2 separate regions of the Homo sapiens genome follow, and region 2 is linked to region 1. Evidence: fine-mapped expression QTL. A gene starts in region 1. The other region holds a variant in brackets. All regions are shown on one strand. Distances are from middle to middle. Region 1 holds the start of VCPIP1 (valosin containing protein interacting protein 1). Region 2 overlaps C8orf44-SGK3 (C8orf44-SGK3 readthrough).

Region 1 (2,500 bases):
ATATCGGGCCAGGTGCTGCTGAAAGTGCTGTTTAAGATTCTCTCTTAAGGCATGCCAGAAGAGCTCTCGGCCTACTAGAGCCCGAGACACAGCATGCACCAAGCAGTGTCCATCCCCGTCCACATGCACTGGAATGAGACATTCCTGGCTTTTATTGGCCCGCTTAATGTCCTCCAGAGTGTCATGCAAATACAGGAGGCTTCCGGAGCGGTCCTTGCCATAGCCCACAGTGTTAACATGCTCTGGTTCTATGAGGAAGGCGCGGTCACCCAGTAAGGCGCAATCGAACAGTTCGCCCTGGTTCATGTCCCGGAGAAGCTTGGCCCGGCCTGTCTGTTTGTCCATTCCATAGCGAGCTAATATGGGCGACAACAATTTGCAGTGATAGTTGGAAAGGCCCATCACCTTTACCAGTTCCGTGTTCTTCTTGGGTGCCCCCGTAACCCCGAGCAGCGCGTTCCGCAGCAGGTTGTGTAGCACTACGTCCGGGTCGGTCACCTCCTCAACCCCCAGCAGCTGTTGCTGCTCGTGCCGCTGGCCGCACTCGGTACACTCGATGCTGACAGAACCGGAGGCCGGGAAAAATAGACGCGCCTGACACTTCGGATCCGGGCAGCTCCCGGAAAGGATTCTCCGGTCTCTCCGCTTCAAAAGCCCCCCCGAAGCAGCCGCCGACGCCAAGGACGACGGAGTCTGTGGAGCCTCAGGGGGAGGAGGTGGCGGCGGCAACGGAGGCGGCGGCGGCGGCGGCTGAGACATAGCTCCTGGCTCTCGTGTCTCGCTCCGCGTCCCAGGCGACCCTCAAAAGCTCATAGCCCAGACCCCCACCAACCCGACTCGGTCCAGTCCAGGCCCAGGGCGAAGCACTTTCCTTTCCCTACCAGCTCTTCCTCCTCCTAAGCGAAGGCGGAAGCGCCGGACGTTGTTTCTCTTCTTACTTCTCCACTGCCGTAGCCGTTGCCCCGAACGTAACGGCCACCACCCCACCCCGCACTCACACTCACTCACTCTCGCTCTCTCTCCCTCAGACACAGACATACACGCCCTCATTGAGTGTGCGCAGGCGCAGCTTCCGCTCTGCCCTCTGGGAATTAGAGTCTTCCAGCCTCTGTGCTGGCCATCAAGCCCTAGGATCTTGAGTCCAGAAGGAACTACAAGTACCGTGAGGCCAAGCGGTTCAGCGCTAGAGGAGAGGAGGAAGAGGACGGCAACAGGAAAAGGGGCGAAAGAAAGATGGTGACTCGCGTTGCCTGCCGGTAGTTGTAGTTTTACTGGGCTCTCCTTCGTCGTCTTCCCCACTCTGCAGCCCAAGGCAAAGAGTCTGAGAGACCACATTTCCTAGGATGCCGTGCGGTGCGTCTAGCTGCACTTCCTCCTTAGGCGGAGGGGAGGATTCAGGGAAGCTTGGTTAAAAACAGTTATGGCAGTGGGAGTCGAAGCGAGGGTCTGAAGTTCACGACTACTAGAAGGGGAGGGGAGTGGAAAGGCTCTCAGTGAAAAAGGTACAGTAAATAAATGTCCAGGGATATTGGGGGCTGGGAAGTTGAATAAATGGTCTAATCTAGGCTGGAGGCCATAAGGGGGAAAACAGTTGATTCTCGGAAGCTCTGCCTTCTCCCCCTCTCTAGTGCGAATCACTGAGGCGCCATTTGATTTCTCGTTTCCTGCATGTTTTGGCAGTTTACAGTGCAAATAACGGTACCTTGGATGTCTGTAGAGTTTTGTGTGCATATACAAATTCTCTTAACTAGGTTTAATTTCATTTGCTCTTTACCACCCTACTCCCCAGAGAATAATAAGAGCCATCATGTGTTAAGTTCTTAATATGTGTCTGGACAGCATTTGCATAACACGATATCATTTGATCTTAAAAAATAACCTTCTTAGGAAACAGGCCCAGAAAGGAAATGACTTGCTAAAGTTCACGCAGCTGATAAGTGAGTGGATAGACATTCAGATCTCAACCTGTCTTCTTTTTACAGATCAGGACATAGGCAGGAAAGGTTAGGCCTGTATTACATAGAATAGTAACTAGCATTTGCTTACTATTGCCTTATAGTTTACATATTTAATAATATGTTCACATGTATCATCTCATCCTCACACCAGTCCTGTAATACCTTTACCAGGTGGTGTTGACTTCATTTACAATCAGGGAAACTGAGACTAAAAGGAATTAAGTGACTTGCCCAAGGTCAAGTCACCAGTTATGCTGGATCCCAATCTCAAACCTTGAGAGTGATTTTTACGCTGCTGCTTACCAAAAAATCCCGGCCGGGCGCGGTGGCTCACGCCTGTAGTCCCAGCACTTTGGGACGCTGAGGCGGATGCATCACGAAGTCAGGAGATCGAGACCATCCTGGCTAACATGGTGAAACCCCGTCTCTACTAAAAATACAAAAAAATTAGCCGGGCGTAGTGGCGGGCGCCTGTAGTCCCAGCTACTTGGGAGGCCGAGGCAGGAGAATGGCGTGAACCCGGGAGGCGGAGCTTGCAGTGA
Region 2 (3,030 bases), 170 kb after region 1:
AACTGACTTTGATTTCTTAAAAGTTATTGGAAAAGGCAGCTTTGGCAAGGTAAGAGTGTTTTGTGAGGTTTTTATTTGGTTTTGGTTTTGGTTTTTTTTTTGGAGACAGGGTCTCACTCTGTTGTCCAGGCTGGAGTGTAGTGGTGCAGTCATAGCACACTTGAACTCCTGGGCTCAAGCCATCCTCCCACCTCAGCCTCCCGAGTAGCTGGGACTATAGGCACACACCAGCATGCCTGGCTAATTTTTTCACTCTTTTGTAGACAGGGCCTTGCTCTCTTGCCCAGGCTGGTCTCAAATTTCTTTCCTCAAGTGATCCTCCCACCTTGGCCTCCCAAAGTGCTGGGATTACAGATGTGAGTCACCATCCCCAGCCTAAAGTGTTTTTATTTTCTCATTCAGTAAATAAGTACTTAAGGAATTTATGCTTTATGTGTGTGAGCCACAGGACTTTTTGGTTTCAGGATATGGAATTAAGATACTTTCCCCACCCTCAAAATACTAACAATAATTAGGGAGAAAAGGCATCTACTCAAATTCTATAATAAAGTTCACTTATTCAGAAGGTGTTTGTTGAACACCTACTGTGTGCCAGATACCCTTCTGGGCCCTGGTTAGAAAAATTATGGAAATTGACATGGTTACTACCTTTGTGGTGCTTACAATCTCGGTGGGGGGATAGTCAATTTAAAATATTCAGTCAAGTAAATAAGTACAAATAATAACAGCAGTGCAGGAAATGAAGAATAGGGTGAAATGACAAAGGACAATAGGCAGCTGAGGGAAGATTCCCACTTACATAGCTTCTCAGAAGACATGCTGTTTAAGCCAAAGCTGGAAAGACAAAAATGAGCAGCTGTGTAAATAACAGTTTGAGAAGGAAACGAATGTGTAAAGACCCTGCTTATTTTCTTATGGTGTCAGATGAATCATGTAACTTGACAGTATAGCCATACCAAGGAAGGAGAATCACTTAAGGCCAGGGTTAACAGGAAAGTATCATAGATGAAGTTATCAGAATCATCGAATATATTTAAGTGCTTTTTTTACAGTGTACTTCAGTCTTTAGTAAAAATGGAATATGTATGTGTTTAATCATATTTTGCTATATTTGTAGCTTTTGGTAACTCTAGTTTGTTTTCTGGGTTTCCTTGAGACTAGAAACTGTGGCTATGCAATTAAACCCATGTATGTTTATTCACTCAGCAAATATATATTATCCACCTGCTACATGCTGAGTATTGTGCTAGTATAAGCAATAGAAAGTTAGAAATTAATCCTGCTCTCAAAATCCCCAAAATTCTATTGGAATGCTTGACATAGTTGTCATTAAGAACAAAAGCATTATCTGTCATTAAAAACAAAAGCATTGTGGCACATACCTGTAATCCCAGCTACTTGGGAGCCTGAGGCAGGAAGATCACTTGAGTTCAGGAGTCCAAGACCAGCCTGGGCAACATAGCAAGACCCC[A/G]TCTCAAAAAAAAAAAAAGTCATTATCTTTTGGAAACTTCATGTTTAGATCTAGAGTCTTATCAGGATTTGGTTCTTGCATATAATGTGAGGCATAGCGTCACAATTCATTTTTTTCCATGTGGATAACCAGCTGATCTTATACAGTTTATGAAAACTGGTTTTTTTGTTTGTTTTGTTTTTTTTTTTGCCATCTGATGGGCCACCTGATCTGCAGGGCCACCTTTATCATGTATTCACTATTTACACCTTCACAGATCTGTTTTTAGAATTTTTTTTTTTTTGAAGACAGAGCCTCACTCTGTTCCCAGCCTGGAGTGCAGAGTGCAATGGTGGGATCTCCGCTCACTGCAACCTCTGCATCCCAGCTTCAAGCAATTCTCCTGCCTCAGCCTTCCGAGTAGCTGGGATTTCAGGCACACGCCACCGTGTCTGGCTAATTTTTGTATTTTTAGTGGGGACGGGGTTTTACCATGTTGGCCAGGCTGGTCTTGAACTCCTGACCTCAAGTGATCTGCCTGCCTCGGCCTCCCAAAGTGCTGGGATTACAGGCATGAGCCACTGTGCCCACCCTCTTTTTAGATTTTAAGTTTTGTGTTTCTGTTTCTACATTGCATTTCTGTTCATTTTCTGTTCATTGGCCTATCTGTTTATCCTGACACCAGTACCACATTGTTGTGACACCTGTAGCTTGATATCTAACAGAATTAAGTCCTCCCTTCTTCTTCAAGAGACTATTCTTAGCCCTTTGCATATCAATATAAATAAATTTCAGAATCAACATATCAATTTCTGCAGAAATTCTATTTGAATTTGATTGGGATGGCATTGACTCTGTAGATCAATTTGGGAAGAATTATCATCTTTACAATATTGTGTTGTCAAATCCGTGACCATGGTATATTACTTTGTTAATGTAGCTCATCTTTAATTTTTCCCAATACTATTTTGTGGTATTCTGTTTAGAATTTTTTTTGAGATGGAGTTTCACTTTTGTTGCCCAGGCTGGAGTGCGGTGGCGCAATCTCGGCTCACTGCAACCTCTGCCTCCTGGGTTCAAGCGATTCTACTGCCTCAGCCTCCCCAGTAGTTGGGATTACAGGCGTGTGCCACCACGCCCTGCTAATTTTGTATTATTAGTAGAGACAGGGTTTTTCCATGTTGGTCAGGCTGGTCTCGAACTCCCGACGTCAGATGATCCACCCACCTCAGCCTCCCAAAGTGCTGGGATTACAGGCGTGAGCCACCACACCCAGCCAGGTGTTTGGTTTTTTATGCTGTTGAAAATTGGTGTTAATTCTTGAAGCTGAATATATGCGTTACCTATGACACATTGGTTCTACTCCCTAGTTTACATATCCAACAGAAATGAATATCCACTAGGAAAGGTATATACAGGAATGTTTATAGCATCATTATTCATAAATAATCTAATCTATCAGCAAGAGAGTAGATACATTGTAGTGTGTCATATAATGGAATATTCTGCATAACAAAATATGAGAACTATGCTATATGCCACAATGTTAATGAATATTTCATATAATTTAGAGTGAAAGA

Evidence for each region. PIP is the estimated chance that this variant, and not a neighbour inherited with it, causes the effect. A credible set is the group of variants that fine-mapping cannot tell apart.
Region 2: its variant is the best candidate, but not a certain one, in a credible set for the expression of VCPIP1 in whole blood (INTERVAL, PIP 0.75).

What each region holds. Positions count from the first base shown.
Region 1 is chr8:66,666,200-66,668,699 of GRCh38, forward strand. VCPIP1 (valosin containing protein interacting protein 1) reads right to left here and starts at 1,032. Exons shown (of 3, transcript NM_025054.5): 1 at 1-1,032. The coding sequence starts at 759. C8orf44-SGK3 (C8orf44-SGK3 readthrough) reads left to right here and starts at 1,397. Exons shown (of 19, transcript NM_001204173.2): 1 at 1,397-1,502. It overlaps C8orf44 (chromosome 8 putative open reading frame 44), which reads left to right and starts at 1,397. Exons shown (of 2, transcript NR_161217.1): 1 at 1,397-1,502. RefSeq lists enhancers at 230-749, 1,120-1,629.
Region 2 is chr8:66,831,263-66,834,292 of GRCh38, forward strand. It overlaps C8orf44-SGK3 (C8orf44-SGK3 readthrough), which reads left to right. Exons shown (of 19, transcript NM_001204173.2): 10 at 1-49. SGK3 (serum/glucocorticoid regulated kinase family member 3) reads left to right here. Exons shown (of 17, transcript NM_001033578.3): 8 at 1-49. Among named protein-coding and RNA genes, the nearest start is that of MCMDC2, 38 kb to the right of the region's middle. The variant A/G (reference allele first, on the strand shown) is at 1,472.